Linked DNA regions of Homo sapiens: regions 1, 2, 3 and 4 are each reported to be linked to region 5. The links are microRNA targets in miRTarBase. Many come from high-throughput screens and were not tested one by one. Region 5 holds a microRNA gene; each other region holds the end of a gene's coding sequence.

Evidence for each region. Region 5 holds the annotated microRNA hsa-miR-623 (AUCCCUUGCAGGGGCUGUUGGGU, at 3,217-3,239, opposite strand). A microRNA usually pairs through its seed, bases 2 to 8, with sites in the 3' UTR of a target mRNA and lowers its output. Matches are read on the target gene's strand: a 7mer-m8 pairs with bases 2 to 8, a 7mer-A1 pairs with bases 2 to 7 and ends in A, and an 8mer does both.
Region 1: miRTarBase lists TLX1 as a target of hsa-miR-623. Seed matches in the 3' UTR shown: 7mer-m8 at 685-691 and 7mer-m8 at 805-811.
Region 2: miRTarBase lists ZNF48 as a target of hsa-miR-623. Seed matches in the 3' UTR shown: 7mer-A1 at 471-477.
Region 3: the mRNA of BID is a reported target of hsa-miR-623. The part of its 3' UTR that is shown has no 7-base or 8-base seed match.
Region 4: the mRNA of SLC16A4 is a reported target of hsa-miR-623. Seed matches in the 3' UTR shown: 7mer-m8 at 3,319-3,325.

What each region holds. Positions count from the first base shown.
Region 1 is chr10:101,136,411-101,140,410 of GRCh38, forward strand. TLX1 (T cell leukemia homeobox 1) reads left to right here. Exons shown (of 3, transcript NM_005521.4): 3 at 281-1,379. The coding sequence ends at 503. It also overlaps a transcript of TLX1NB not described here. Among named protein-coding and RNA genes, the nearest start is that of TLX1, 7.1 kb to the left of the region's middle.
Region 2 is chr16:30,398,735-30,402,734 of GRCh38, forward strand. ZNF48 (zinc finger protein 48) reads left to right here. Exons shown (of 3, transcript NM_001214909.2): 3 at 1-1,374. The coding sequence ends at 373. Among named protein-coding and RNA genes, the nearest start is that of ZNF48, 5.3 kb to the left of the region's middle. RefSeq lists an enhancer at 39-582.
Region 3 is chr22:17,732,161-17,736,160 of GRCh38, forward strand. BID (BH3 interacting domain death agonist) reads right to left here. Exons shown (of 6, transcript NM_001196.4): 6 at 1,978-3,431. The coding sequence ends at 3,420. Among named protein-coding and RNA genes, the nearest start is that of MIR3198-1, 30 kb to the right of the region's middle.
Region 4 is chr1:110,360,221-110,364,220 of GRCh38, forward strand. It overlaps SLC16A4 (solute carrier family 16 member 4), which reads right to left. Exons shown (of 9, transcript NM_004696.3): 9 at 2,637-3,673. The coding sequence ends at 3,546. Among named protein-coding and RNA genes, the nearest start is that of RBM15, 23 kb to the left of the region's middle.
Region 5 is chr13:99,354,779-99,359,384 of GRCh38, reverse strand. MIR623 (microRNA 623) reads right to left here and starts at 3,254; the gene lies at 3,157-3,254. The region is part of intron 7 of UBAC2 (UBA domain containing 2); the gene reads right to left. RefSeq lists an enhancer at 2,988-3,227.

The DNA.
Region 1 (4,000 bases), not on the chromosome of region 5:
GCTGCGCGTGGATGCGAGTCCCAGCTGTTTGGGCCTCGCAGACTTTCCCATCGCTCCTCCTCTGGGATACCTTGGCTCCATCCGCTTTGGGGTTTCCAGTCTTTGTTGGAGTCAGGACTCTCAAAAGAAGGGAACGCGTTATAGGGGCCCAAACTGGATTTGGGGACTGCAAAGGCGAGCAGCGCTCGTTCAGTTTATCTCCTGGGAACGCACCAGGAGTTGGGCACACGCGGGAGCTGGGTCGGTGCTCCTGGCAGGTAACGGCTTGTTCCCGGTGCAGACGGCAGACTGCGGAGGAACGGGAGGCCGAGAGGCAGCAAGCGAACCGCATCCTCCTGCAGTTGCAGCAGGAGGCCTTCCAGAAGAGCCTGGCACAGCCGCTGCCCGCTGACCCTCTGTGCGTGCACAACTCGTCGCTCTTCGCCCTGCAGAATCTGCAGCCGTGGTCTGACGACTCGACCAAAATCACTAGCGTCACGTCGGTGGCGTCGGCCTGCGAGTGAGCCTGCCCATTCTGCCCTGTGGGACCCCAGGCCCACTCAGGGGTCACTGAGGCCTGAGACCCAGGACTCCTCCCCACCCTCCTGGCCTCAGACTGCACCCAGGAGGGGAACACTGCCCTCGCACGGCCCCGAAGGGCCCCCACATTTGTGCCGACACTGTTCTCCCTTCGGTGGAAGAGCTCAAGGGACAAGGACACGCGCCCCCCTCCCAGAGGCGTCCCGCACCTGTCTGAACTGTTAAGAAATCTGTTTTTGTTTATTTCATTTTATTTTAATTTTTAACGTGGGATTCAGAGAAAGGCAAGGGAGGTAAGGGAGGAGGAGCTTCTGGGGTCCCCAGGGCTGTCATCTGAATTTGCCCTGGGAAACCCCTTCTCTGTGACCCACTTCTCATCACACACATGGAAACCCATAGGCCCACACACAGGTGGTGTCACTGTCCCTCCTGGTGTCACCCCAGAGCCACACATGGGCATCTATGGGAGAGTGTCAACCAGACAGAGGGTCACAGTGTTTACACTTTGGACCTTACGATCAGGCACAGGTCAGGGGTGACACAGACTCATCCTGAACAGCATGGCACTCCCTCCAGCACAAACACAAGGTCATGGCCACACTGTGACACACTACACCACACACAACAGCCAACAGCTACAACAGCCTCACTTGGTCTGCCAGGCCCCCACCACACATCCCAGCCCAATCCAGGTACGCACAGACAGGTTTTCACATAAATGCAGCCCATTTCTCCAGAACCCATTTGAGGGGTGGGGGGGTGTTAATTTATGCACTTATAAGGTGTTTTCTGTGTAACCATTTTATAAAGTGCTTGTGTAATTTATGTGAAAAAAATAAATAAAAGCCTCCGGATCCGGAGTCAGGGCTGCCTGCTCCTTGCGGACCCTAGCGTCCTTCAGCTACTTGGGTTTGGTGTGTGAGCTGATGCTTCAGGGGCAGCCCTTGGTACCTGAACTTGAGAGACATGTTGCGGGGCAGGACCCTAAGGCTCTGGAGAGAGGAAAGGAAGAGGACAGATGGAGAGAAGGCAGAGTTGAGGAGAGCAGGGAGAGCCAGGCTCTCCTGGGATTACCAGTGCCTGAGAGGATGTGGATTTCTTTGGATGTGAGAGTCGTGTGTGTGTGTGTGTGTGTGTGTGTGTGTGTGGTGTGTTTGTGATAATGTGAGCAATCAGCAATGCGAGCAAATAGTGAATATTTATAATGGTATTTAAGTGTATAATTGTGTTTGCAATTCTTGCGTGTAAATGCTTGTTTCTGCTTAAGTTGCAAATCGAAACTATCATTGTATGCACGGGCTTGTAGTGGTGTGTGTGTAACCGTATGTGAATGTGACTGTTTCTTTTTGGGTAATTGTGTAATCAACCATTGTTTGTGATTATGTATGAATCGTGTTGATGTTTGGGAGAATATGTATTAGTTTCTCTTTGTAAATCTATTTTTCTGTGAAATGTGTGACTGCTTCTGAAGTGGATCATCTTGAATTTTATGGGTGTAATTGTGTGTGAGATGTAATTATGTGTGAGCTGTGCATTTTCCCTGTATTTACTTGTGTGTGACAGAATGTAATTGGGGGAGTAAAGGTAGTGGGGAGTGTGGATCACTGTGGGAGACCATCACTGCAAGTGGGTGGGTATGGTTCTGTATGAGTGTGTGTAATTGTGTGCTGATGGTGTATGTGTTGGTGGGAGTCTGTTGTGCGATACGCAGATACATTGTGGCGGGACCAACATCTGCTGAAGTTCTGGGGCTCTAGACGCTTACCCAGCAAGCTGCAGAGACTGGGGCACATTGAATCAGAAATTAAGGCCAGAATCCTCTCTGGTGCTGTAAGTGGGACCTACCAGTTCCCAGCACTAGCCTGGCCTAGGAGAGATCTAAAGAATTGACTTTCTGGGAACCTCCAGGAGCCCTCCAGACCACCCTTGCCAGACCTGCAGCCACAGTACACATGCACACAGGCATAACAGCCAGTCCCCAGCCTATTCGAATTATCCTAGACAAGACTGACTTGGGTCTGCTTTTCTGGAAGAAGCTGTGTGGTGGAGGGTCTACAGAACTCATCACCCTAGGGGTGAGTTGAAATGGAGGGGTAAGAGGCTTTTTCTCTGGGATGGGAGAGTGAGAGAACTTTTCAGCTGAAAGTGGAAGTTCGTGGTGTGGGGGTCACTGGAAGCTCTGCAGAAGTGTTTGCGGGATACTGAGGGTGGGGAGCCACCCTAACTGTCAGAACCACTGTCCCCCAACCCTGCCCCTGCCCGGCAGCCATGAGGGCTGTGACACAGGTCGTGAGCACAGCAACTTCCCACCCCAGCAAGCCCATGGGGAAGTTCGGCTGAGTGGAGGGTGGGCTTGGTCATCCACCCCCTCATCTGGGGTCCCCTGGGATATCCGCATAAGAGGGGGCTTCTGTCACTCACTTTGTGTAGACATGAAGAAAAGAGAAAAAGAGGGGAGGGTTCAGGGTCCGAAGACAGCAGCCAGCCTTTCCGCCCCATCCCCGCAGGCCCGCGGAGTGCTCAGGTTGGGCCCTGACGAGCTGTGTGGAGCGTAGTGAGCAGGTTCTGGCGGCAGCGCCGGGTCTGCTGCAGGTCTCCCGCATTCACCGGCTGTGGCACCCAGCGCCAGGCCGCGCAAAATCCAGAAATAGCCTCCAGCACCTCAGAAGTCGTCTCCCTCTACCTGGGCAGGTCTGCTGTCCCCTCTGCTCCCGCAGGACTGGAGCCACCGAGCTCGCGCCTTCTTCTCGGGGTGCGATTTCTCTCCTCTTTTGGACTCAAGATCAATGCTTCCCGGCCGGCGCAGATCACACAGCAGGACCCCAGGGGAGACTGTGGCCTTCTTCCCGCCTCCCAATTCCCCAAGACCGCCTCTAGAGGCTGCTGTGTCCGGAGAACTCCGAGCATTTTCTGGACACAGATTGCCTAACAGAGGAACAGGGGTTAGGTGGGGAGCGGCTGGCCGGCCCAAACACAGCAGCCCCAAGCTGGCTCCCAAGCCTGGGCTCTCCACCCCCGCTCCCATCCTCTCTTGAGCACAGTTAGGCCCAACACCCCTGTCCCCCAAAACACCTCCTACCCTCCCTCCCCCCCAGCCCCCATCTTCAGGAACATCACAGGGCTCACACTCACTAACCGCGGAGAGCACATGCAGGCCGGAGCCCTCAGCCCGGCAGCTCTCGGACCCTGCCCAGCTCGACGCGGACTCATGCAGAAGAGGACATTCCGCAGGTAGGTACAATCCCAGCGCTGGGGCCTGGGGCGTCCGGGGGGCGGCCTTTGAGCTTCCCGGATACCGCTCGCCTGCTCCCGGAGCTGTTCGGCCGCCGGCTGCCCGGGTCGTGCACTTTCAGTAGGGCCCCGCTGACTCTCCTGCCCTTGGGCTAGGCCTCCCGGGGATGCCAGACTCCTGGGGACGCTGGGACCCGCGGCGCGGCGGGACACGCAGGACTCCCGCCTCTCCGCCCGGAATTCGTTGAGA
Region 2 (4,000 bases), not on the chromosome of region 5:
CAAGCACCTCCGCACCCACCGTGGTGAACGGGCCCGGCCACCACCACCATCCACTCTGCTGCGGCCACATAACCCACCTGGCCCAGTACCCATGGCCCCTCGACCCCGAGTTCGGGCCCAGCCTTCTGGACCCAGCCAGCCCCACGTGTGTGGCTTCTGTGGGAAGGAGTTCCCCCGGAGCTCAGATCTGGTCAAACACAGGCGTACACACACGGGGGAGAAGCCATACAAGTGTGCAGAGTGTGGCAAGGGTTTTGGTGACAGTTCTGCCCGCATCAAGCACCAGCGTGGGCACCTGGTCCTGACGCCCTTTGGGATAGGGGATGGTAGGGCAAGGCCCCTCAAGCAGGAGGCAGCAACAGGACTGGAATGACGCGGTCCAGGGAGGGCGGAGGCCCAGGAGACCAAAGGGAGGGGCTCTGCCGCTTAGCAGAGAAGAAAGGGCCTGGGAGGTGGTGGGAGGGAGAAGGAAGGGAAGAAAGGGGAGGAAGAATAGATAGAAATAGGGATTGGAGACAGTAACCTTGAAGCTCAGGAAACTGTCCTGGCTGGGCTGAGTCAGGACCTTGCCAGGACGGGCTGTACCCCTGGCTTCTAGAAGACTGCCTAGCACACAGTAGGCATTCAATACTTGTTGAATAAATAAACTGGCTTTCACCTAAGGACTCAACCCTAAATTCCTGCTGCCTCATCTGTTAAGAACTGACACTTTCCCCTTGCTGGGCAGGTAGTACACACCTGTAATCCCAGCAGTTTGGGAGGCTGAGGTGGGAGAATCACTTGAGCCCAAAAGTTTGAGGCTGCAGTGAGCTGATTGCACCACTGATGCCTCCCAACCTTGCTCTGGGAGACCAATGCCTGAACCAGGGTTTGTTTACCTTCTGAGCTGCAGAGATGGGGCTTCTGGAATTTAAGGTAACAGGATGAGGCAGGGGTATCTTGATCATCCGGATGGGGCAAATACTGCTGTGTGGCATGGTGGTACCCACCCCTATGGAGGGGCACTCTTGGACAGAGCCCAGACCTTTGTGCCCTGGAGGGAGCCAACCCACCCTGACACGGAGACACTGGCAGAATAGACCAGAGACAGAAGGTGCTCTCATGGTATCCAGCCTGGATGCCAAGCCCAAGTCCTGGTGGATAGCAGAGGCCAGCTGTTTGGGAAAAGGGCAGGATGCTCTGAGGCCTGGCAGCCACATTTCCATGTGTCTTTTTACCAATAAACGGCTTCTCTTCTGAGGCTTGGACAGTGTGTGTGTACACACAGGCATGAAAAAGGTGGAGAGGGGTCTCTGCGCGCAAAACTCAGACTGTAAATTTTGTGTGCTTCCCTTGCTCTCTGAGCCCATTAAATAAAGAGGTTGTCTTGGCGTAGTCAGCGGCTTTCTAGCTCCGACGTCTGGTTCAAAAACGGCCGCCAGCTCCATCAGCCGATGCCCCAGGCCTGAGGTCTGGCTGCCCGCAGGCACCACCTACGCCACAGCATCCAGCGCGACCCTTAAAAGGAAAACCGCGCGGCGCTGCAGAGACAAGGCAGCAAGGAGGAGGAAGAGGGGGCGTGTGGGGGGCGTTGTTGCTATGGCGACGGCTGTCGGCGGGAGGCAGCCCACAGGTCTGGAACCGGCGTGGAAAGCCCGGACGCCGGCGCGCCGCCCACCGGGACCTGGGAAACCCGACACCCGAGACCCTTTTTATGCGTCGGGAAATGAGTCATTCGGCTGCACAGCCCAAAGGGAGGGCAAACGGTGCTCCTTCACCCCCAGAAAAGCCCGCCGGATTTCCCGGCGCCCCGCGGGGCCTGGGAAGCAGGTCTGCAATCCCTAGCGTTTTCACAACCACTGGCCTGATCGGCCAGGGATTAAAGAAAAAAGAAGTCCAGGGCGGTTCTCCCCGCTAAACAATGAAGGCAACGAAGTACAGGGTCGCAAGTTCCCGCCCCCGGCTCTCCCCGATCTCCGTGCGGAAAGAATCCCTGGACGGGTTCTCGCGAGATCGTAAGCACTGGCCTGGCTTCCCTAGAAACCGACCAGGGCTGGCTGCAGTGCGGCTCCTCCCGCTCCGCCCGCCCTTTCCAAATTGATGCGCTCTCAAAACCCTAGAACCCTGCGTTCAGGGCTGGGGCTCTTGATGGCCTGAGCGGAGCCCTTTGGGGCTTCTGGAAGTTCCTTCTTGCTGGTTTTCCTAGCTCCCTTCCCTACCAGTGTGCCCTCCAAGACGACCTGCAGTGAACTTTCTTTTCTTTTTTTTTGAGACGGAGTCTCGCTCTGTCGCCCAGGCTGGAGTGCAGTGGCGCGATCTTGGCTCACTGCAACCTCCGCCTCCCGGGTTCAAGCGATTCTCCTGCCTCAGCCTCCTGAGTAGCTGGGATTACAGGCGCGCTACCAAGCCCGGCTAATTTTTGTATTTTTAGTAGAGACGGAGTTTCACCATGTTTGTCAGGCTGGTCTCGAACTCCGGACTTCGTGATCCGCCCGCCTCAGCCTTCCAAAGTGCTGGGATTACAGGCGTGAGCCACCGCGCCTGGCCACTTTCTTTTCTTGATTTCTTTCTTTTTCTTTTTTCTTTTTTTCTCAAGACAGGGTCTCACTCACTCTGTCGCCCAGGCTGGAGTGCAGTGGCAGGATCTTCGGCTCACTGCAGCCTCCGCTCGGGTTCAAGCGATTCTCCTGCCTCAGCCTCCCTAGTAGCTGGGATTACAGGCGTCCGCCACCGCGCCTGGCTAATTTTTTTATTTTTAGTAGAGACGGGGTTTCACCATGTTGGCCAGGCTGGTCTCAAACTCCTGACCTTAGGTGATCTGCCCGCCTCGGCCTCCCAAAGTGCTAGGATTTATAGGCATGAGCCACCGTGCCTGGCCTGCTTTCTAAAATTACATCTGGCCATGTCACTCCCCCATTGAAACCCCAGTGGATCTCCACATGCTGTCCCCAAAGCCTAACTTTCATTGGCACTCAAGCCCTTCCATTTGTGTAGTTTCAGCCCTGGGCTCCTTAAATGTCGTTTCTTTTACTTGGAATGCTCCTCCACCACTACCCACCCCTTGTTAATCTCCTCTGTCAAAACACCTCAAGCACTACTTCCTCCAAGAAGCCTACTCTGACCCTCGTCTGGGTTAGTTACAATCCCCTTCTCTGAGCAACCCGTCTCTGAGCACCTAACACATGAAGAGCTTCTTGAGGATAGTTACTCACTCAACAGCTGCACCTATTGTGTGCTGCATACTGGGATAGAAAGATAAACAAGACAAAGTCCCTGACCTGTTTTTATGCGGGAGATAGACATTGAACAAATAATTACAAGTGAGGTGAGAAATGTCCAGCAAACCTATGAGCTGGAAAGAATCCTCTGTGATCCAAAGGCCTTTCCAGGCCAGGTGTGGCTCAGGCCTGTCATCCCAGCATTTTGAGAGGTTGAGGCAGGAGGCCAGGAGGCCAGGAGTTCGAGACCAGCCTGGGCAACATAGTGAGACCTCTCTACAAAAAATACAAAAATTAGGTGGAATGCACCTGTAGTCCCAGCAACTCAGGAGGCTGAGGTGGGAGGATCGCTTGGCCCCAGGAAGTTGAGGCTGCAGTGAGCCATGATCATGCCACTGCACTCCATCCTGGGCAAAAGAGCAAGATCTTGTCTCCAAAAAACAAAAACGACCCCCGCCACCACCAGAAAATACTGTAATCCCAGCTACTCGGGAGGCTTGAGGCAGGAGGATCGCTTGTGCCTGGGAAGTCAAGGTTGCGGTGAGCTGTGACTGCACACTGCACTCCAGCCTGGGGGACGGAGTGAGACCCTGTCTCAAAATATATATATATATTTCCACAAACTACTGCCTCCTTGCCAATCTGGCAAAGTCCCACTCATCTTTAGTTTTTGTTTGCTTGTTTTTTTTACAGATGAGCTCTCACTATATTGCCCAGGCTGGAATACAGTAGCTATTCACAGGCACATAGTGCACTATAGCCTTGAACCCCTGGGCTCCAGCAGTCCTCCTGCCTCAGCCTCC
Region 3 (4,000 bases), not on the chromosome of region 5:
TAACCTTGGCTAGATAATACCTGCTGTATGGTACAGAATAGTGACATTCAATTACCTCATATATAAAGAGAGCTCCATGGAGAGCTGGAAAGTGCATGCCACTACAATATTAACACATCCCATCTTCCCTTTCTTTTTGCAAGGCTGTTGAATTTCAGCCCGGCATCCCCACACACTAACACCATCAGGTCTTCCACATTTGATGGTTACACCACAGGAGCCCACACCAGACTGCTGCTTCCCTGTGAGCTCAGAGTGAAATTGTTCTCAGGGGTATTTGCAAGGCCTTGTCATCAGTTAAAGACTAGCAGCTGACTCCAGGTGATTCTACCCCGCTGTCACCTCTCCAAAGGGGAAATTGAATAGTGGTATTGCTCACTGTGGTGAGTGTTCTTTGCACCACCAGAAGAAACTGGTTAATGAATGTACTATTTAGAAGAAAAGTTTTGACATTTAAAGATTACTAGTTGTTCCCTTTCCCCAGGAAAAGAAGGTCAAAGTACAGTCTTCCCTGTTGCAGAGTTTGGAATAACTCTGTTTGCCCTGATGCTTTCCAGCAGGAGAACTGTATTATGTAGAGGGGTCCTTGGCCAGCATCAAAGGAAAAAAATTATTTTTTTCCTAGACCTGTATTTTTCCTATTACAGTCTTCCATTTATTTCTTCCTCCAGATTAAAAGTGCCTCTTCCTACCTCATTCCTTAATTAAGGTCAATTTAGTGTTGGCTCAAATGCTTTCATCTCAAAAATACCGGAATTGAATGGTAATTTGGATAATTAAGTTATCGTGCATTTTAAGCAGCATGTGTTTCCTTTTTCCGTGTGAGTTCCATGAGCCTCTGCACTGCCGCTCTGCACTGCTGAACTGATCACTGTGGGTCATTCTGGCTCCTCTTCCTTCCTGTCATCTACCTTTTGGCCAATCTACTCTTCATCAGGGGAAAGGAACAAACTTCAAATCTGTGAGTTATTCTTTCTGTCAGAAGCAACGTGCTAGAGAGAATACATGGGATTTGAAGATAATCAGTGGACTCATCTTTCTATCCACATGGTAACTATGCCCTTGACAGGTGGTATCATTTCACATCATCAATTGTCTTTGTTAAGTCCATACTTAATTGGTTTGACTCCAGGTTTTGAAAACAAGATCGTAACATTCAAAGGACTCTATATTCCAATTCTCAGCTAGCACAACTAATAAAGTTGCTGGACAGTAAAACTAGGCGCCAGTGCTGTGATCCTTTAAGGAAGCCTTGAGTATCGCAGCAGTTAATGCTGGGTCCTAAGAGGAGAGGTCAGGAATGATTTGACCTTCTGAATGCACCAAATGTCCCACGTGACTTTCAGATACACCAAGCATCTTTTCAAGGAGAAAGCTTTTGATGTTTAACAAAAGAATTTCCATCACTTAATTCAAATATTTTTAAAACAGAAAGGAAAACACATTCTCTGAATTAAAGTCACCTTTGAATCATATCCACAAGGATTGTGTTACAGGGCAAAATCCACCAACTGCCAGGATATGCCCGAGTCACCATGGCTGGGAAGTGCTCAAGACTGGAACATTTGTGTTTGAGACAATGGAATCTTTTTATAATGTTGGCTTTGGGAGAAGGGGTGACGGTCTTGCTTTACAACCAAGACTATCTCAGACTTGGTCTGGAAGAATTTACACTAAGACCTGTTATAAAATGGTGGCCTACTGTATGAATTCAAGTGAAACAGAAGCAGGTGAAGATGCTGTGGAAGAGTCAGTGTGTGAGAGAGGTGGTCCAGAGTCACTTGCTGCTTAAGAACACTTTCCCATTAGTTCCGGGTGATGACTGCATACAGCTCCTTTGGGAAGAAAATGCCTCCCCCAGTGAGAATCTGATTATAATGGCTGACGTATGGATGGATGTGTAGGCGCAGTGTGGTTCAACCTGTTTCCATTGTGGTTGGAAAACTTTTTTAAAAGTCCACTCCAAAACATGAAAAGTCGTAGTGTTAGGAAGATTTATTTCCAAACAGTGGCCTCCACACTGCGCGGCAGCACTTCTTTTTAGTATTTGTAAGCTTTTGCCCACTTTCAATTGAGCCAGCCCTAGCGTGGTATGTATTGCATGCTGAACAATATAGAGTTTGTTTTTCCTTTCTGATGATTTTAAACTCTTAAAGAACAGGAAAGCATCTGGTAAGAAGAAATCATGAGTCCGTCAGTGCCCTTACTCATATGCGTCTCCAGTGGCCTCATGTTGTGGTCACAGGAGTTTCCTGTTCACAGCAATGTGTGTGATATGGACCCAGCATCCACTGTCGTGCTTTTAAACTGATTCCTGGGACATAGCTTACCACTGGAACAGCAGACCAGTGTTGCACTGTTTCTAAAGCTAAGCTTTTCCTTATTTATTTTGGTACTACCTAAGTGACTTGGTTTTGACTGTCCCTAAGAGAGGGAACCACTTTGCTGAATTTTTAAAAAGTCCAACTGCTCTTTCATCTTTTATGCTTAGAAACCTGTTCTCTCCAGATGCACTTCTGAGGCATGGATGAGCTGAGCGTATGGCTAGAAATTGGAAGTTTACAGCTATTACCAGGGGGCTAACTCCCGGGGCATCGCAGTAGCTTCTGGCACCCGTGGCTTCATGTCTTTAGCAAAGTCTTGATGTCATGGAAAGAGAAAAAGTGTATGCAGTTAGTTACCTGATTTTGTAAACAAACAGTGGCTGACCTGGGCCCTTAAATCACCTTCACACCTTTTAGAACCACAAGTGGTTCTTTTTGACTCCAACAAAGGAAACGAAGTTGAAAAAGTCAAGCCCCTGTGTACTGGGGCCGGACTTCCCATCATTTGAGTGCAGCACTTTAGTTCAGAATCTCTGTGCCATGTGGTTTTTTAAACAGGAAGATTGTTGGTTCCTTAGTATTAAGATAGATAGTCCCTATTTTGAGTGGAATTTTTCATTTGTAAGGGGTATGTTCCTTCTCTGATTCTTGCTTTCCTCAAACAGGATACTGCCTGCTGTAAGACCATCCTCTATGGTTGTACTTTAATAAACAGTAATTTTTTTTTACCAAAAAAATTGTATTTTGTTTCTACTTCCTTGAAACCTGCTTTCCAATTTAATTTTTAAGTGGGAACCTGCACAGTGGAAATAAAGGCACCGTGTGTAGATTTACAGATGTGCAGATTCATGTGTGGATGATATGAAGGCCATTCAAATACGTGTAAATGGACATTTTCATTCAAGTATATTAATGTAGATATTTTAAAGTGGGTTATAAGTTTAACATTGTCTTTAAAATAGAAGTCACAGCTATCTTCCAGCCTGTCTTCTCTAGGAACGCTGTTGACATGCCAGGGCTCCGTCTACACTGGAAGCAGCTATACAGCTGTGACCACATCGAGCTTTAGCCAGTCACACTTCTGGAACTGTCCGTTCAGTCCATCCCCTAGAGCAAGAAAGGAGAAAAAGCCAGAATCAGCTAGGCTCATTCACAAACCAGGCTCCAGAGCTCTGTGCCACAGTAGAGCAAAGCTGGGGTTTATGCAAAAACATGTTCTCCAGACCCCTGAAGTCCTATCCGTGCATCCTACTTTTTGCTACATGGGGGCAACTGCAAAAACAGGCCGTTCAGGCGGTGAGGTGGGTATTCACATCTCCAAGGCACTGACGGTGTCAGGAGGCCCCTGCTGGGTCAGAGGAATCACGATTCTGCCTCAGCCCTCAGTCTCTGGTAAGCTGTCCATACAGACTGCTGCACACGTCTTGCCCACCCTTTCCCCCTTTACATGGGTGTTGGTAAAAGCTGTCCAGGAATGGTCTCAGGCTTACCTCCTTCCAACAATTCAGCTGGGTTTAATGCCTGATTTAAGATTTATATTCATTCTCCTGTTTTTAAAATGCTTGTATAACTGAAGACCACAGCATATAAGGAATGTTTTCTTATGAGTTCTCAGTAGAGGATTAGATGCTATTTTACTTAAAAACCAAAGCCTGAAGTAATGCTTCTGACATGTC
Region 4 (4,000 bases), not on the chromosome of region 5:
TCAGCTGGGTGCGGTGGCTCACACCTGTATTCCCAGCACTTTGGGAGGCTGACACGGGAGATTCACTTGAGCCTAGGAGTTCTAGACCAGCCTGGGCAACATGGCAAAACCCCGTCTCTACCAAAAATACAAAACTTTGCCAGGCATGGTGCACATCTGAGGTCCCAGCTACTTGGGAGGCTGAGGTGGGAGGATCACTGGAGCCCAGGAAGTAGAGGCTGCAGTGATCTGTGATTGTGCCACTGCACACCAGCCTGGGTAACAGAGCGAGACCTGGTCTCAAATAAAAATTTTTTGAAAGAAAATTATTTTTTTAAAAAAGGTATGTGTCTACCTCAGTAACTGGTGTATTATTAGATGTTGAAGTGAAGTTATTCACCACCCTACTGCCCCAAGCGCACTTACTCATATGTAAGTTGTGTAATATTTGTTTCCTCTTTGTTTTATGGAATCTCTTGAGGGGGAAGAAAAAATCAGCAACTATTATGCTTTTCTTGAAACTCCATATATAGCTGGGATGATATTCCTGCATTATGGATTCCTAGAAATGTTTTATATGGCATCTTATTGTCCACAAAAATGACAACATAGCAGTAAATGAACAGGAACATCATAAGTTAATTGTTAATATGATGAACGCGTTAGTTATAGAAGTCGTTAGCTTTCTGTAGTCTTGGGATTCAGGCTTTCTTAATTCACACCACCCAGGTTTAGAGGGCCTATTACTATTGAGTAGGATAAAGAACTTCTCTGTTGCATGAGATTCATAAAACCTAAGAATTCAATTTGGAGTTCTTTAGTTGGTCCCACTTAAAATGTACAGCTTGCTTAGCTAGGAGGAAGGATCAGGTTGCTCTAGGTAGTTGAAGTCCCTTTTAAAAATAATTGCTACTCTAAAGAGAAGAAGGAATTAATGAAAGTGGTTCATAAAATCATTGATTTCTTTTATTTTTTGTTTTGACATGAAAGCAGAATGGACATTAGCAGCTACTATATATGAAGGGCATTTTGCCTGGTATAAGTATATTTTCTTTTTCTTTTTTTTTTTTTTTTTTTTTTTTGAGACGGAGTCTTGCTCTGTTGCCCAGGCTGGAGTGCAGTGGCATGATCTCACTGCCACCTCCACCTCCCGGGTTCAAGCGATTCTCCTGCCTCAGCCTCCTAAGTAGCTGGGACTACAGGCGTGCGCCACTGTGCCCAGCTAATTTTTGTATTTTTAGTAGAGACAGAGTTTCACCATGTTGGCTAGGCTGGTCTTGAACTCCTGACCTCAAGTGATCCACCCGCCTCAGCTCTCAAAGTGCTAGGATTGAAGGTGTGAGCAACCATGCCCGGCACAAGTATATTTTCATGGGTTTAGTCCTCACAGTATATCTGTGAGGTGGGTTGGTGGTATTTTCATTTTACAGAGCAGGAAATTGGGTCTCAGATAAGTTAATTTTAAGTAACTTTCATGAGGGCATATGGTAACAAGTGGCAGAGCTGATATTTATTATTAGTTAACTATTTTTGCTGTTTGTATGTGTAAGGGGTGGTTTTTTTTTTCATTTTTTTTACATGTAAAATGTAAAAATATTAGACATCCACATCTAAATGTAAAAATGATATTTCTTTTTTTTTAAGTCAGAAAACCAGTTTTCTTTTTTCTTTTGCTTTAGTCAGAAAGCCATAAAAACCATATTTAAATAGGATCAACTACTGTTTTTTAACATAACTGAGATTTGAACCGAGATTAATTTGGTTCCAAAGCTTATGCTAGGCCTTGGAGAATACAAAGATGAATGAAACCCCATTCATCTTGTTGATCTTGCAGACTAATGGAAAGGATTGACATGTGAGTTCATGTAGTACTCTGTTAAAAGTTAGATAGGATTCCAGATGAGAATGACAATGCTGGGGAAGATTTTTCCAAAGGAGGTAGCCTTTGAGTGAGTCAGATAGTGAAAAGTGAAATGGTGCCTGGTAGAGAAGGCATACATAGGCAGTGACAGGGTATGGAGCTAAAACCAGTCTTCTAGAGTTTTTCTCTGTAAGTTGTTAATAGACATTTTAAAGCAGAGAGGAATGGAAGAGTGGAATAACGATGATGGTAATAGTTTAAGAAGCATTTTGGACCAGGCATGGAGGCTCACGCCTGTAATCCCACCATTTTGGGAGGCCGAGGCGGGTGGATCACTTGAGGTCAGGAGTTTGAGACCAGTCTGGCCAAGATGGTAAAACCCTGTCTCTATTAAAAATAACAAAAATTGGCTGGGCATGGTGGCCGATGCCGGTGATCCCAGCTGCTTGGGAGGCTGAGGCAGGAGAATAGCTTGAACTCTGGAGGCGGAGTTTGCAGTGAGCTGAGATCATACCACTGCACTCCAGCCTGGGCGACAGAGTGAGACCCTGTCTCAAAAAAAAAAAAAAAAAAGCATTCAGAAGGAGATGCTAAGGGAGGTTGGTGGTATAAGAAACATCTTTTAATTTAAACATATTTCCCATTAAAACCACCTATTCAACTTTCATGTAAATCTTGTAAAGAGACGTTTCAATATTTAGTGTGAATATTTTGTTAATTAGATGTAGCAGAAAAATAACGCTTTGATGGGCAAAATTGCTGTTCAGATGATCTTGAAATAAAGAAGTTTTTAAAGCAATTTTTATATACTTTTTATTATTTAGCAATACATGTTTATCATAGAAATTTAAGAACCTAAGTAATACAAAGAAAGTAAGGATTACCTTTAATTAAGAACCTAAGTAATACAAAGAAAGTAAGGATTACCTTTAATCAATAAACAAAGATAAACTTTTGGAGGGAGCATATACCATTCCAGTCACTAAGTAAGGTTTTAATATTCAGATTCCAGAATTCTGATCAATCAATGGCTATGTTTCACACTTCTTTAAATTAAAAAATTTTCTATCTTTACATATTTTAGTGACTGAATTACCATGGCGTAATTGAGAGTTTGGATTTATTATGGTACATTCCGATTTCTATTTAATACATAAGGTACCTGATTAAAATTTTAGCCTATTTGGTTAAATACTAACAATACAGGTTGCTATTACTCTTGTCTTACTACCAATTAGACATTTCTCAGAATGCTAAAGCAAGAAGGAACCTTAAAAACTTATCTGGCCGCGCCCAGTGGCTCATGCCTGTAATCCCAGCACTTTGGAGGACAAGGCGGGCGGATCACGAGGTCAGGAGATGGAGACCATCCTGGCTAACATGGTGAAACCCCGCCTCTACTAAAAATACAAAAAATTAGCTGGGTGTGGTGGCGTGTGCCTGTAGTCCCAGCTACTTGGGAGGCTGAGGCAGGAGAATCCCTTGAACCCAGGAGGCGGAGATTACAGTGAGCCGAGATTGCGCCACTGCACTCCAGCCTGGGCGAAAGAGCGAGACTCCGTCTCAAAAAAAAAAAAAAAAAAATTGTTTTCCTTCTCATGTTACAAATGTAGATGCGATGTGTTTCTTTCAAGCTTTTGTTTCCAATGACATTAGTTTAGGTTTTCTTTTGTTTAGCTCTCACTTGATTGCAGTCTTCTTTCTTTCAGGTCAGACTGTTTTTCCATCTTTCGGCCAATGGTACAAAAAAAAAGGAAACTGAAGAGAGGAGATAGCATATGCCAGAGAAGTAGAAAGAGCCATTGTATGTCTGGGTATAATCATATAACCAGCCTGGAAGGAAGGAATGATTTCTGTTAGGGAAGGAAATTTTGCCATTAGTAACTCTCAGCCATGAATAGCTCCTCAAAGCAAGGAGCCTCCTGTATTGTGACCCATTTGAACTTAGTGAAGCTTCTTAGCTGCCCTATTTTTCACTGATGAAGTTGAATCAGCTCCACCTGAGTTAGGGACTTACACCATCTCCAATCTTACAGTGGAAGTTGGAGAAAATTAGGAACACATACCGTTTTATTTTACCATGAATTTTATTAGAAGGCCGCTATTATGAAGAAAATAATCATAAATTATTGTTTTCCAGAGAAAAAAAGAAGTGATAAT
Region 5 (4,606 bases):
ATGTACCTGGTAATACTTTCAGCAACAAAAGTAGAAAGAGAATTAAGACAACCTCCCTGCCTTTTAGAAGCTCATAGTCTGGTATTTTAATAATGAAACACTTTTTCCTTTTTCTTCCAGGTTATCAAAGCACCCTTTGTTAGATCCAGTGGATCCTCCTGAGCGCTCTGTGACCTGCCTTCTGGCAGCACCAGGTCTTACTGACCACTCTTCCTCGACATTCTCTTCCCCAGGCTTTGTGGCATCCCGCTTTCTTTCTAGCCCTCTAGCTACGCCTTCTCAGTGTCCTCAGATTCTCCTCCTCCCACTCCTGTCCTTCAGACACGGGTGTTCTTGAAGGTTCCATGTGGGGAGTGTTTCTCTCCTTCTTCCGTGTTCTGGGTGCCCATCCATTCCTAGGGCTTCATGGGGTAGAGACTCCCAAACTCGAACCTCCAACCCAAACACTGTGTCTCAGAGCCATGTAACCCACTGTCTCCTGAACACACTTTCATCTAAATGTTAAGGAGACACCTAAGATAGAACACGTCCCAAACAAACTCATCTCCCACCCCATATCTCTTGCTGTGTCCCCTGTCTTGGGGTGTGACATCCACATCCATCCACTGCATAAACCAGATCTCTAGGCTCTGTCCACTGGAACTCCCCCGCCACTGTCTCCACCCTCACTCTCACTGCCCCGTGTGAGACCACAGTCCATGGCCGGGGTGGCTCCAGAGTTAGTTCCTAAGATACAAATCTCGTCAAGCCCCTCCTCTACTTAGAAACCCTTTGCTGGCTCCTCATTGCCCTTTTATTAATTTAAAAATATTTAATAACTCATTAACAATCACAAGCCTATTACTTGCTAACATAAATATAGATTTTTGAAATAAAAAATAACCATGTTTTCCCAAACAGAATTACTGAGAAGAGTGGCACTGTTTTCCATTTTTGCAAATCTCTTTAATGTCTGACTTACTAGAAGGTTGCTGGATTCTCCCATCTGCTTCTGCATTCGATTTTGTTCTGTTACTCTGGTTTTTGAAGTACATGAAGCAAATCCAGCCACATAGATACACAGTTAGAAAAGAAAGGGAGAGTACATTAAGGGCCTTTTCGGATGACTACAGACATCCTCCCCTTTGATGCTACTCAATGCATCCCTGTTGCTTTCAGAATCCGACAGAAATTTCTTACCTGGGCTTACCAGACTCCTGTCTGCCACTGGAGTCACTTTCTCACAACACCGCCCTCACATTCTCTACTCCTGCTGGGGAGCCTGCTCTCACCACCCTGTACTCCTCTGCGTGCTCTCACACCTCACCATCCCTTCCCCAGGACAGCTCTCAGCACATCCCATTTCACTTGCAGGCTAACCGGCCTGAATCTCACAACAGCCTATTAGCTCCACGGGGACTGTGATTCTCCATCTTGTCCTGTTTGTAGACCTGGCCTCCTGTACGACCTGGCATATGCAAGCACTCAAGAAACAGTTGCAAAATGGATAACTGAATGGACAAAGACATAGTGAGGCATATTGCTGAGTTAAGGCGTATGGGGTTTTCTTAGCCAAGACTGTAGTTAGTTGGGATATGAAGACCCAGGTGATGGGTTACTAATGAAGGCGGGGTGGAAGGGGTGAGAGGGGTTAAAGCAAGGAGGCTCCCAAAGGACATGCTTGATACCTACATTCTTCATGGACATAGCATCCTCTTCTAATACAAGAACCAGGAGTTACAAAGAAGCAATGCTGGGAAACTGGTGAAACCACAAATGGCAGCTCCTCATAGAAGACAGTTATTTGCAATTCCCTGTGCTCTGTGGAAGCTGCAGCTTTTGGTGTAAGTATGAATATGCTTACACTTAGTTTTACTCATTTGCCTTCTATGCGTAGTGCGCTGTCCTGGGGCCAGATAAGGAGGCTGTGACACAGAGAAATGACTAATTTCCTATGGCCCTGAAAAGAGTTTGGCTGAGATAACAAAACAAACGTACATTAAAAACTAAACAAGAAGCACTTCAGGACTGAACGAGAGGCATCTTGTTAGACTTAAAACTGTAGTCACGTGTCGCTTAACAACAGGGCTTCATTCTGAGAAATGTGCTGTTGGGTGACTTTGTTGCTGTGTACTTACAGAAACCTAGATGTGATCGCCTACTACACACCAAGGCTGCTTGGTGTAGCCTATGGCGACCAGGCTACAAACCTGTACAGCAAGTCACTGTGCTGAATACTGGAGGCAGCTGTAACACAATGGTAGTTGTGTATCTAAACATAGAAAAGACATAGCAAAAATATGGCATCATAATCTTATGAGACCACTGTCATACATGCAATCTGTCATTGACCAAAACATATTGTTATGTGGTGCATGACTACAAGAGTGAGCACAATACAGAGAGAAAAGACACCACAGAGGCTGCTGTCCTCAGCAAAAGCTTTGTGGCAAAACTGGGGAAAAACCAAACAAAGCCCAAAAAAAGAAAACCAAACAAAGCCCACCACCAGAACCACACACAAACTGGCAACACATTCACCACTTGGATAAGAGATGGGGCAACGCGAGGCCCAGAAGAAACCATGCTGCATATTTGAAAGCCTTGGTTCCTTGGTAAAGTCTTAAAAATAGGAACCTTAGAAAACTCAGAAGACTGAATCTAACCCTGTCATGTGAAGTGCCACCCATGATCTTTGTGTCGTGCTATAAAAACAGTGTATTGTATCTTTCTGTGCTGCTTAGCAGTAGTCTCAGTAGGTATTGGAAAAAATAATAAACTAGAGGGAAAGGAGATGATCGCTTGAACAAAGTCCCAGGCTAGTTTTGCAGCTCTCGGTTTCACTTTTCCTTTGTGGTTTCTCACAGTGACCAGTGTTGATGGATGAGATACTTCAAACAGTACTATTTCTTCTAGGCAGAACAGAAGGCAGTTTCCATGGCAATACGATCAGGAGACACAATACATCCTGTTGCTCAGTTTTGAGAACCTTTTGGCTTAGGGGACAGAAGTTTCCAACTATCGGCTGCCCTCTGCCCCGTCTCTTCTTCCTCTGTCTTGCTCTAGTCGGCTGGAGTCCCAAAGGCCACACGCCTTGCCTGTGCATTCCATGCAGGGGCTAAAAGGGTCAGGGCCACAGCTGGTGTTCCAGGGACTGATTGGGGATGGCAATGAGGACAGAAGGTGCAAAGACATCTACAGAGTACATCGGGAAGCTCCAGCACAGCTTAGGATGCAACCCAACAGCCCCTGCAAGGGATGCTTCTACTGTGTACAGTCTGACAGACATGTGTCCCAAGTCTTGTTTACTTTAATGACATTTCTTTTCAGAGGCCTGACATACCTAGCACAGCTGATCTTACTGTGACATAGGTACAATTTTACAAACAGGTTCAGTTGGTTTCAACAGCAGCTGCAAACCCAAGAGAGACAGGTTTTCCCTTTGTTTCAACAAAGCACGGCTCCCAGCCAGTTCCATCTGGGGAGGCCCTGGAGGTGCAGGGAAGGGACTCTGGAGAGAGCCATGGGATGCACATGGCTCAGCCATGCACCAGGGCGTCCAGTGGGTCTGTGCCGCCGCTGCCCTCCAGGCCCCCTGCACAGAGTGGGGTGAGACTCTGGGCAGCTGCGGGGGGGCTTGTGGCACCAAGCACGCTGCGGGCTGAGCCACAGGCCTGCGTCCTGGCTCTCGTTTGTTTTGAAAACGTGACTGACCCATCACTCCTCATGGGGAACTTTTCCTCCAGGGACCGTCAGGACCAGAGGTGTCCCAACCTTTTCCTGTGTTTTGGTTTGGTTTTGGTTTTGGTAGAGAATGAGAATGCTAAGGCTGCTCTGTGAGGAGGAGGTGGTGGTGAGAGGGTGGCGTGGGGGGACCACAGGGTTCCACAGCCCACAGCCCAGCTGCAGGTCAGGGACATCAGCGCAGGAAGAGCATGCCAAGGCCTTGTCTTGCAGCTTCCTCACTCCCTCGACTGAGTGACACACCTGTAAGCACTGAACGCTGGTGACGGTAAGGGCCACACAGCGAGGACTGAGACAGTGGCCTTGAAGACATAAGAATGGAAGTGCATCTCTCAGAGTGTGGATTATCCATTTCTGCATCGTATATTCTGTTTTCCCTTCCTTCATTCTTTTGTCTGCCAAATTTGGGGTCATTTTTTCCTTCCCAGCATTGGCTCTACACACAAATTATAAAGTAAAAGTCAAAATTAAAATTAGTTTTGGTACTTGTTACAGTAAATGTTTTGACAGAAACAGAGGTGAAACTCCTAATTAAAAATGAGACTGGGGATTACTCAAGGTTTCCCCTCTTCTTACATTTCCTCCGTGGAGAGTTCATCCATTTTCATGTCTTCAGTGACCACCTGAGTCTCATTCCCGCACTTGCCTATCTGCGTTCACCGTGGCAGGCGGATGTCCACTTCCCAGCTCATGTCTGGACTCAGCTCTCCTCTGTCCATCAAACCCAGCCAACGCTGAAGGACTACTGATTTTCCCCTGGGAGAGGATCTGCCCGTTTAGGTCCTTGCTGTTGCACTCCGAGATTATGCCAACAACTTCTTGGATGACATGACTGCCAGTAAGATTTCCCCAATCCAATCTGCATGCCACGGTCAGTGAGTGT